Linked DNA regions of Homo sapiens: region 2 is linked to region 1. The links come from fine-mapping of genetic effects on gene expression. Tissue or cell type: whole blood. Region 1 holds a variant in brackets; the other region holds the start of a gene. Each region is shown on its reference strand, or each on the opposite one.

The links. PIP is the estimated chance that this variant, and not a neighbour inherited with it, causes the effect.
Region 2: KCNH3 starts here. The variant in region 1 is the best candidate, but not a certain one, in a credible set for the expression of KCNH3 in whole blood (TOPMed, PIP 0.51).

Annotation. Positions count from the first base shown.
Region 1 is chr15:89,902,945-89,908,309 of GRCh38, reverse strand. ARPIN-AP3S2 (ARPIN-AP3S2 readthrough) reads left to right here. Exons shown (of 10, transcript NM_001199058.2): 3 at 1-30; 4 at 4,327-4,533; 5 at 4,931-5,094. ARPIN (actin related protein 2/3 complex inhibitor) reads left to right here. Exons shown (of 6, transcript NM_182616.4): 3 at 1-30; 4 at 4,327-4,533; 5 at 4,931-5,094. Among named protein-coding and RNA genes, the nearest start is that of ARPIN, 7.3 kb to the left of the region's middle. The variant A/G (reference allele first, on the strand shown) is at 3,166.
Region 2 is chr12:49,535,806-49,541,170 of GRCh38, reverse strand. KCNH3 (potassium voltage-gated channel subfamily H member 3) reads right to left here and starts at 2,141. Exons shown (of 15, transcript NM_012284.3): 1 at 1,679-2,141; 2 at 39-272. The coding sequence starts at 1,754. RefSeq lists enhancers at 518-567, 1,212-2,021, 2,022-2,833 and silencers at 2,151-2,330, 3,061-3,180.

The sequences.
Region 1 (5,365 bases):
TGAACACGGGCTTCCTCATGTCGTCCTACAGTAGGTATCCTCTGCCCTCCCTCTCTCCCTCAGGGCCCTCCTGCAGTGTGGCGGCCTTTCTCTTCTGAGCCTCTTAGCCCCTGGAAAGTGTCTCTTCAGCCCTCTTGATGTTGAAGCCCTGTATGTGGCCTGAGGCTTCCACATCCACCCCTGGCCTTGCCTCCCATTTACTCAGAGGATCCCCGTTCCCTCCCCTCCATTCCAGGGGCCAGGCTGGCCTTCCCACCTCCTGCCATTTCCTGTATCTGGCAGAATCACCCACAAACCTGGCTTTGGGCTCTAACTGCCTTTGTGCAGAGCCCAGGCCAGGCCCTAGGCGGTCTCTGTTTTACTGCCCAAATCCTCTTTTGGTTCTGGGGTCTCAGTCCGTGCGTGCTATATAACAAAATACCTTAGGCTGGGTGATTTATTAACAATAGAAATGTGTTTGTTTATTTTATTTTTAATTTTTAAAATTTTTGTTTCTTTGTGCATTTTTAGTGGCTGGGTTTTGCTATGTAGCCCAGGCTGGAGTGTAGTGGTTATTCTCAGGTGCAATCATAGCACACTATAGTCTTCAAGTGATCCTCCCTCCTCAGCCTCCAGAATAGCTGGGACTGTAGGTGTGTGCCACTGCACCTACTTAAGAACAGAAATGTCTGGCTTACAGTTCTGGAGGCGGGGAAGTCCAAGGTCAGGGTGCCAGCAGATTCAGTGTCCGGTGAGGGCTTGCTTTGCGCTTCAGAGACGGTGCCTTCTTGCTGAGTCCTCACATGGCAGAAGGCAAGGCGGCTCTCTCTTCAATCTCTTCTGTAAAGCACTCATCCCACTCGTATGCCATGACTCACCTCCTAAAGGTCCCACCTCTTAATACTATCACATTGGTGATTAAGTTTCAACATATGATTTTTTTTCTTTTTTAAAAAAATTTTAGGGTGAGTGTGGTGGCTCATGCCTATAATCCCAGCACTTTGGGAGGCCGAGGTGGGTGGATCACTTGAGGTCAGGAGTTCGAGACCGGCCTGGCGAACATGGTGAAACCCCAGCTCTACTAAAAATACAAAAATTAGCTGGGCATGGTGGCGTGCACCTGTAATACCAGCTATCTGGGAGGCTGAGGCAGGAGAATCACTTGAACCCAGGAGGTGGAGGTGCAGTGAGCCGAGATTGCACCACTGCACTCCAGCCTAGGCAACAGAGTGAGACTCCGTTTCAAAAAAAAATAGTAATAATAATAATAATACTTTTTGATGGCCACTTTACTTCTAGGCATTATGTCCATACTCCATCAGTGGAGGAAAGGCAGCTGAGTTTGACTTTTTTTTTTTCCTTTTCTTTTGCTGTCTGAGACAAAGTCTGGCTCTGTCCCCCAGGCTGGAGTGCAGTGGCTCAATCTTGGATCACTGCAACCTCCGCCTCCCAGGCTCAAGCGATTCTCCTGCCTCAGCCTCCTGTTAACGTACGAATTTTGGGGGATACATTCCAACCATAGCAAGCCCTCCATGATCTTCTTCTTCTTCCTGATTTTGTCTCTGGTTGAGCCTCTTTGCTGTCTGCCCCTGGGTGAGAAGGTTTTGAGGTTGAGTGGGACTCTATCACTTTATTCATTCATACCTTCAGTTACTCATTGACTCTCTGAACATTAGGGACCATCTATATCATGTGCCAGCCCTTGTGCCACATGCTGAGAGGTCCAGGGATGAACAAGACCCAGTCGTATACTTGAAATGTTCTTAGTCCAGTAGAGGAGATGGACAGGCCCGGGCCTGGATCCCGTGAAGGGTGCTGAGCCCAGGCAGGCATGGCTGGGGATGCCCTAGAGCAGGGAATAACAGGACTGAATCCTGAAAGATAAGCAGAGGTCAGCCAGGTGCCAGGGATTTGCAGGGTGTTTCAGAGAGGCAGAGGGTGCCCAATGCCTGGCAGTTGAAGAGTTCCTGACCCAGGTATGAGAAGCCATGCAGGGCAGGCAGCAGGAGGGGCGGGCACTGAGGAGCTCAACTCTAACCAAGGGTGCAGGGCAGCCCTGTAGTGAGGTTTTAAGTAGGCAGGTGATGTGATCAGGTCTGTGTTTGAAAATCTCCAGGGAGGCAAATAGCCTGGAGCCCAGCGATGCCTGTGAAAAAGCTGTTAGGGTCACCTAGGACAGAGATAAGAAGGCCAGGATTAAGGACCTGTCAGTGGGGGTGCAGAGACTGGAGGAGCTCAAGCTAGAGGAGGCACAGTGGCCTCAGTGTTGGCTTGGCTACTGGGGAGGAAGAGGAAGGAGTCGTGATGATGCCAGGGGTTGGGCATCGGTGCCAGACTTGGGGAAATGGAGGGGCGAGAGGTTTGTGGGGAGGAGGTCTGTTTGGAACACACTGAGTTTGAGTTGCCAGGAGCACTGCTGGGTAGAGGTCTACTGAGGCCTTGGAGGATAGTTCTAGAACTTGGGGAGAGAACTGGGCTGCAGCACATCGAGAGTATTGAAGCTATGGAAGTGGACCCAGTTACCCAGGAGGAGAAAAGAAGTGGGCCCAGGAGGTTGTCTTGGGAAATAGCAACAATAGGAGATGGATGGAGAAGGAAGAGCAGGAGATGGAGCCACTGAAAGGTCCGAGGGATGGGAAGGTGTCATGTCTCTAAAGCCCCGCGAAGCCAAGGGGAACAGGCGTGAGGAGCTAGCAGTGGGGTCAGGCACTGCCCACGGGTTAGTTAGGTCTGAGATATGGAGCATCCAAGAAGTTTGCAGGTTAAGAGCTCACCGGTGACTCTGGTGGGGGTACATGGGGTCTGGAGCAGTAGGTGTCAAAGCCAGAACGCAGGAAGGCCTTGAGGAAAGGTCAAGGAGTGGGGAGAGAGAGACAGGTCCTCAGGAGGGGGGAAGGGGTCTATCTGCAGCCCAGATGGAGGAGCTGGCTTGAGGCAGGAGGAGAGGCCTCCTATCCTTTGAGACAGAAGGAAAGAGGAGATGTTTTGTGTGGTCAGACGTGAGTTGATGGCTGGGCGTGGTGGCTCACGCCTGTAATCCCAGCACTTTGGGAGGCTGAGATGGGTGGATTACCTGAGGTCAGGAGTTTGAGACCAGCCTGGCCAACATGGTGAAACCCCGTTTCTAACAAAAATACAAAAATTAGCTGGGTGTAGTGGCACACGCCTGTAATCCCATCTACTCGG[A/G]AGGCTAAGGCAGGAGAATTGCTCAAACTCAGGAGGTAGAGGTTGCAATGAGCCGAGATTGCACCACTGCACTCCAGCCTGGGTGACAAAGCGAAACTCCATCTCAAAAAAAAAAAAAAAGGGTTGACAGGTGAGTGGTCAGGGAAGTGAGAGGTCTCACTTGATGGCTTCTGTTACCTTGCAAAGAAAGTGAGATGCTCTGTCTAGAGGGTGTCAGGGCAGAGGGCTGAGGAGGATGGAGCAGTCCTGTGGGAGCAGCCACCTGTGCAGTCCCAGAAGGCACCCCTGGCAGAGGTTGGCTGAGGTTGTACACCATGAATGGAATGTGCTCCATGAAATGTGTTCATGGGTTGGCTGGGATGTTCTCCAGTGAAGTGCGGCCACCTGGGCTTGGCGTGGCGCAGGCAGCCTGTGGGACAAGCTCCGGGGTTGCTGTGCTGGGGTGTGGCCTTGTGAACACACAGTCCTGGGAGGCTGGGCCCACTTCACAGTCCGGGAGTGCCCCTTCCCTAATCCAGCACCTGGATTTAGGACTCCTCCCTTAGTCCATGAACTCTGCCAGGGCCAGGAGAGAGGAGGGGGACTACCAGAGTTTACTCCTGGTTCCAGTAGACCTCACCCCAGCCAGGTAGACCCTGAGAGCCTGGAGAGAACCCTGCCTGGCCACCGGGGTCTCAAGATGGAATGTGTTGGGGTGCTTTGAATCCTGCCTCCTCTACTACTGTGTGACCTTGAGCTAATTACTGAACTTCTCTAAGCCTTAGTTTTCTCATCTGTAAGATGGGAATAGTGAAAACATATGAATGCTTACCTAGGGGTCCATGTGCCAGGCGCTGTGCTACATGCTTTATTTCCTTTATACGTCATTTCAGTCCTGTCAGGTAGGTTCTGATTTTATCCTATTTTTCGGGTACGGAGAGGTGATGTAACTTGCCTAAGTTATTGTGGAGCCCAGATCTGCACCAGGCTGCCTGTCCCCAGCTCATGCCTGTCCGCCTCTGCTGTGGAGTTCCTTGATGAGGACTCGCAGAATGGGCACTGAGTCCCAGCCTCCGGGTGACTGAGCTTGGAAACACTCAGCCCTCACCTGGCTCCTGAGAGGCCCTCCGGAAGTTCTTGCTGCCACAGTGATAATGACCCTCCTGCGCTCTGTGCCTGCAGAGGTGGAAGCCAAGGGGGACACTGACAGGCTCACGCCCGAGGCGCTGAAGGGGCTGGTCAACAAGCCAGAGCTGCTCGCGCTGACAGAGAGCCTCACCCCCGACCACACAGTGGCGTTCTGGATGCCCGAGTCAGAGATGGAGGTGATGGAACTCGAGCTGGGGGCCGGGGTACGGCTGAAGACTCGGGGCGATGGTCCCTTCCTGGGTGAGCAATGCAACCCTCACTGTGGCCCACTGTTCCTGTGTGGCCCATGGGGGCTCTTGGCCTCCCTTCTGCCTAGAGCTCATGGGAGCAGGCAAGGGCTGGCCTCCATGGGGACACGACCAAGCCCTTGAGATTTACTCCTAAATCCCTGCACAAGTGCCCTAGGGCCATTGGGCTCGACAGCCTGGATCCCCGGGTGCCACCCAATCCCATGGTTCCTGTGAGCGACTCTCCCACCATACCTTGGGGGTCCCACCCAGGGGCTCATTGACCACATCTATGCCTGGAGAAAACAGTGGTTTAACCCAGGCCTAGGGGACCCCACCATAATGGGCCCAGCCCTCACTATGTTTCTGCCACAGGGACAGAGGACATTCAATTTCATCTCTTCTTTCAGATTCATTGGCCAAACTTGAGGCTGGAACAGTGACCAAGTGTAATTTCACTGGTGATGGAAAGACAGGGGCATCCTGGACAGACAACATCATGGCCCAAAAGTGTTCGAAGGGGGCTGCAGCGGAGATCCGAGAGCAGGGGGATGGGGCAGAGGACGAGGAGTGGGTAGGTACCTGGTGTTGGTGCAGTTGTATCTCCTGGCAGGAGCATGGTACATACTGGTTGAGGTTGTGGGTAGGATGAGAAGACGACAGGATGAATCTTACCCCCCAGCTTTAGTGGAATTCTGTGAAACACCTGGGAATGTGTTAGCATCAGGAGAATTCCTCTAAGGTATGAAGAATGACAACCTGGGACCTTTCTTGTAGGTGGCTCTGAACCTAACTATTCCCCAAAGATTCCCAAGTGGTAGGAAGGAGGGGGTGCAGAGGGATAT
Region 2 (5,365 bases), not on the chromosome of region 1:
CTGCAAAGGTGAGGCAGGCTGGCCAGGTGGCCCCTCACCGCTCTTCCGGTACAGGATCAGCTCAGCCTTGAACTCCTTGTGCTCGTCCAGGGCCTTGCGGATCTGTTGGCGGACGAGCTCACTGGTGTCTGGCCCATAAAGGAAGGAGCAGGCACAGCCCCGCTGCATGACCTCAGCCCGGGAGAAGCCCGTGAGGTCACAGAAGCCATCAGAGCAGTAGACCACGGGGAAGAGCCCCGCCACCTGGGCGTTGCCCAGCACGAAGTTACTGTCTGCAAGAGAGCACTTCTCAGAGGAGGCGTGGGGTGAAGGGGCAGGAGGCCTACCACCCCTCCTTTCTCAAATGCCTGCAACCAAAGAGTGGGTTTTCCAAACCCCAGGAATCCTGCGTGTGTTAAGGCAGGGCTGTTTATGAATAGCAATCAGTGTGTGTCACCTGTTTGTCAGTGCCCTGCAGCAGGTGTGAGTACATTCAAGGATCAGCACATGTGAACTGAGGTCGGTGAATGAAGCGCTGTGCGGGCACTGTGCCTTCTGGAGGGTGTCCTGAGCAATGTGGGGTAAGGGCTGGGATTGGGGAATCCCTAATGAGGACTGCCCTGCCAGCTCTGGGCCAGCCTCAGCCCCACCTCTACTTCTGCCAGGCTCACCCACTAGCCAGGTACCCAGGTTGGCTGTCTGGCTTCTCCCACTGAGACACACCTAGACTGGAGGCAACCCCAGACCACCATACATCCTGCTGTCTGTGTTTTAGCCCTAGCTGCCTGACCTGGCTCAGGAATTAGTGAATGTGATCAAGAATGGGGGTGTAAGAATGGTGACTGAGCACGGGAGCCAGGAGCCAGGAATGTATTGGGGAGTGGGGGGCACTGAATCAGCAGGCTGCAGGAGCCAAGCACACTGGCAAAGCAGATGGAGGAGCCCGGAGTGGGGAGAGCGCAGGGCTGGGCTCCCACCCCCTATCAGGAACCGGAGACCAAGGAGGACCTAGGCAGAGAGCTGGGAAGCCCCACGGGGGATGTGAGGGAGAGGAGGAGGGAGGGGCTTTCATCACTTCCCCTGTGCTCAGAGCCCCCAGAACCGGGGATCCAGAGCTCGGGGCGCCTTCTCCAAACTTCCCCAGTCCTGATGGGAGTCCCCAAACCATCTTCTTGGGGCTAGATGGCCTCCCCAAGTCTAGGGGGTTCAGGCTATGAGACACGGGGCTTGGACACACGGTGCTCTCCCGAGTGCCGCCTACTCTTATCTCCGTTTGCAAATCTCTTTTCTAAATCTGTGTTTTGAGCCCTCTCAGCTGTCCCTGAGCACTGTTCACCCGCCTCGCCTTACCCCACCAGTCCGAGGGTAGTTGCTGCGACAGCGCCAGACGCAGGGGTGGGATGGGTCAGACTGACTAGGTTCGGGTTCGAGACCCGGCTAACAGAGAGCATCCCAGGACCCACACCCAGGGACTTCTGGCCCTGTTGCCTCGCCTGAAGCAGTGTTGACCCCGAACCTTCGAACCTTCGGGGAAACAGCGCCTAGCAGGAGACGATGGCCCCAGCCTCAAGAGGGGCGGGTAGGGAGGAGAGGGTGAGAATAGGCTGGCGCCAAGCTGGGCTGCTGGGGGTTCGGGGAAGGCGGGAGCCCTGGCGAGGGTCCGGCGGCCCGGGTGCAAGTGGGCGAGGGTCGGACTCACGCGTGCCGTCGAAGCGCGTAGCGATGGTGTCCAGGAAGGTGTTCTGCGGCGCCAGGAGGCCCCGCATGGCCGGCATCTTAGGCGCCCGCGGCTGCCCGCCCCATCCCTCCGGGGTGCGGGGACTCCGCGCCGGGGGAGGGCGCCCAGCTCGGCCGCCCCCCGCCGGGCCCCGCGCTCCCTAGCGCAGCCGTCGGGGGGCAATGCGCAGACCGGGATCCGGGGTCGCGCCGGACGCTGGCGCGCGAGGGGGCGTCCGCGCCGTCGGGGCCCGGAGCATGGCGCGCGGCCCCTCGCGCCCTCGCCGCCCACAAATCCCGGGCTCCAGGCCCCGCGGCCGCCGCGCTCTCAGCACCTCCCGCCGCGGCAGCGGCTCGCGTGTCGGCTGCGGGTGGGCTTCCGCTCGGCTTCGCTCGGCGCCGGCTCTCGGCAGCTCCCTCCGTCTGTCGGGGAGAAGCTGCAGCCTCCCTCCCTCCCTCCCGCGCCCGCCGCCTGCACCGGGGTAACCATGGAGACGGGGCACACCCAGCCAGGGCCGCCTCCTTAAAGGGACAGGCCTCCCGCGGAGGGCTCCCCTCCCTTCGGGACCTCGGCGGGGGCGGGGAGGTGGCGGCCGCCCTGATCCCACCCCGCGGGCCTCCCCGCCCGTACCTCGGAGAACCACTGGCGAGCGGCCGGCCCCCTTTGGCTCACTCGGCCTCAGCCGCAGAGGGGAGGCGTCTTTCTCTGCAGCCCGGGGGCTCTCCGAGAGCCTCCTAGCAGCCTCTCCTCCCCCGGCGGAATGGGAGGGGGGCTCGGGGCGTGGGGGGCAGGGGACGCATGCTGTGGAAGATGCTCTCCCCGAGGAAAATGCAGTGGGCAAGGGGACAGGGCGACAGGCGCAGGTGAAGGCCCTGCGGCCAGCGGAGGCCGGCGCTCTAGAGGGGCTCCAGCCGCACCCGGGAAATCTAAAAGCAGATGGGGCGGGGGTTCTGCGCGCACAGCTGCCCGGCCCTCGAGACTTTCTCATCCTCAACTTGACGCTCTGGAAAATGGATCCAGCTGCTCCTATGAGGTGTCTCCGCAAGCAGGAGCTGCCTGGAAACCAGAGGGTGGGTAGCCCTAGGAGTAAGGGTCAGACGTCCTCCGTGTGACCCCGTGGGCGGAAAGGGTGTGTGGTGGGGAGGGGAGCGCCAGACCCCTTGTCCTGCCCCTCCATTTCCCTCTGGCATTTGTCACCTCTTGCCTCTCCTAAGCGCGCTAGAGGGTCAGGTGGTAAATACAGGGGACCGGCAGGGGTCAGACACTGCGAAAAAACTTCCGAACCTTGTGCGTGCGGGTCCTGGCACCAGGAGAGCGAGGAAGGCCGAGCCCCGCGCCTCACGCAGCTCGTCCTGGAGAGCTCCGCGCGGCGCCGCGCGGGGTGCTGCCCTGGGGCGGCTGCAGGGAGCCCCTTCCCGGCGGGGCGGAGCCGGGCCCGGGGCGGCCGTCTTTTCTTGGCCTCCCGCGCTGCGACGGTCCCCCGGACTTGCCTGCCAGCGCCGCTCCTCCTCCCTCCCACGATTTGCCAGCGAGCGCGGCTGCCGCCCGCGCCCAGAGGAGCCGCCGGGGCCAAAACAGCAATTTGTTCCCTAACGAGCGAAGCGGTAGGCTCAGCACCCCCATCCCTCGAGACGCACTCACAGTCACCAGCATCAGAAAGATGCTACCCCTCATCAGCGACGAGAGCCAAAGCCCCAGGCACCTGTATCTAAATGAGCTGGCGCTTTGGGAAGGGAGGACGCGCTCCTCCTTCTCCGGTCCTGTGAAGCCTGGAATCTGGTCCCCAGGACGAGGAGTGACCCTGAGGAGTGACCCTAAGGAGTCGGGAGATCCTACTCCCATCTCATCCCCAGCCTTGGCTGGATCCTGGCTGTAAAGTAATCCCCTCCCCCAGCCGTTCAAGGCTTCCTCTCCAGGCGGCGGTCCAGCTGTCTACTAAAAAGAAGGACATTTTAGGAGTCAGTTCACTTTGAGACAGGATAAGGCCACAATTGAAATCACCCACCCACTTGGGAACCAGGTCTGCCACTTGCTGTCCCTGTGATTAAATTTTTTTTTTAATTTTGGTCTGTGTGAATTTTTTTTTTTTTTTTTTTTTTTTTGTGACGGAGTCTCCCTCTGTCGCCCAGGCTGGAGTGCATTGGAGCTATCTCTGCTCACTGCAACCTATGCCGACCAAGTTCAAGCAATTATCCTGCCTCAGCCTCCCAAGTAGTTGGGACCACAGGCATGCGCCACCACGCCCCGCTAATGTTTGTATTTTTAGTAGAGATTGGGTTTCACCATGTTGGCCAGGCTCATCTCGAACTCTTGACTTCAGGTGATCTGCCCGCCTCAGCCTCTCAAAGTGCTGGGATTACAGGCGAGAGCCACCACACCTGGCCTGTCTGTGTGATTTTTAAAGGCAAGTTATTAACCCTTCTCTGACTCAGTTCTCTCATCTGTAAAATGCGGATGCTAATAATAACATCAGAGGGTCGTAATGAGGATTCAATGAGTGAGTATGTGTAGAGGATCTAGAACAGTGTGTGACACCTGCAACATGTAAATGTTTGTTGTCTGATTTTGAGTCTCCTAGGAGCCCTGTGAAACAGCCAGGGTGGGGGCTCCTTATGCTCCATTTCACAAAGGAGGAACCAGAGCTGAGAGAGAGGGAGAGAGGAAGAAGAAGAAAGAAGAAAGAAGAAGAAGGAGGAGAAGGAGAAGAAGGAGAAGAGAGAAAGGAGGAAGGAGAAAGGAGGAAGGAAGAAGAAGGAAGAAGTTAAGAAGAAGAAGAGGTGGAGGAGGAGGAGGAGGGGAGGGAGAGGGAGAAGAGGAGGAGGGGGAGGAGGAGGGAGAGAGAGACTTGCTCAAGGTAACAGAGTTGATAAATGACACAGCCAGGGTTAGAACCCTGACAGTCTCCCAGCCCTAGGTCGTTGGGTCTACCTCTCTCTAGCCTAACTGTGTGGGCACTCAGAGGACTGGTCATCTGGGCTTGTGTAGCATGTCTGGGTGGCCTTACACTTATCCCTGTAAGGCCTAAGTGTTTAGACTTTCAGGCTTCCAGCTCACCTGCTGGGGCTGGTTTTGGGCATTAAGCCAAACCAGACACCTTGGGTTAGGGTGATCAGGGTGAGATGGAATGTGTGGGGTGCCCCTGAGGATTACAGCAGCTTACACTTATTGAGCATTAACTTTGTGCCAGGCACTGTGCAAAGTGCTTTACTTGGATCGTCCCATTAATCTTCATAATAACGCTATGAGCTAGTTATTAGCTATAACTGCCAATTCACGGATGAAAAACTTGGGGCAGCGAGGTCAAGTCCCTAGTCTGAGGTGCACTGCCTCCTCCAGCAGCTCCAGGCACAATGCCCATGTCACCCTTTGCTGCCCTGGTTCCCACTTCCAGGAGAAGAAAATACACTAATATTTATGGAATGTTATTACCATTCTTATTGCAGAGTGAAAAGTCAAAGGCCTGTTTGGGCCTTTAAACCCCTTCCCCCATTGCCCCTCAAAGAACTCATGTGAATGCGTACTGGGAGGGGGTACCGCCACTGACCCTTTCCTTTATGTGGCCTGTTTTAGATGAGCGTGATCAGGCACAGGATCTCAGCCCACTATCCTCTCTCTTCACCTTTACCCAGTCCCTCAGATCTTCCTGCCAGACCTGGCTTTTGTTTGTAT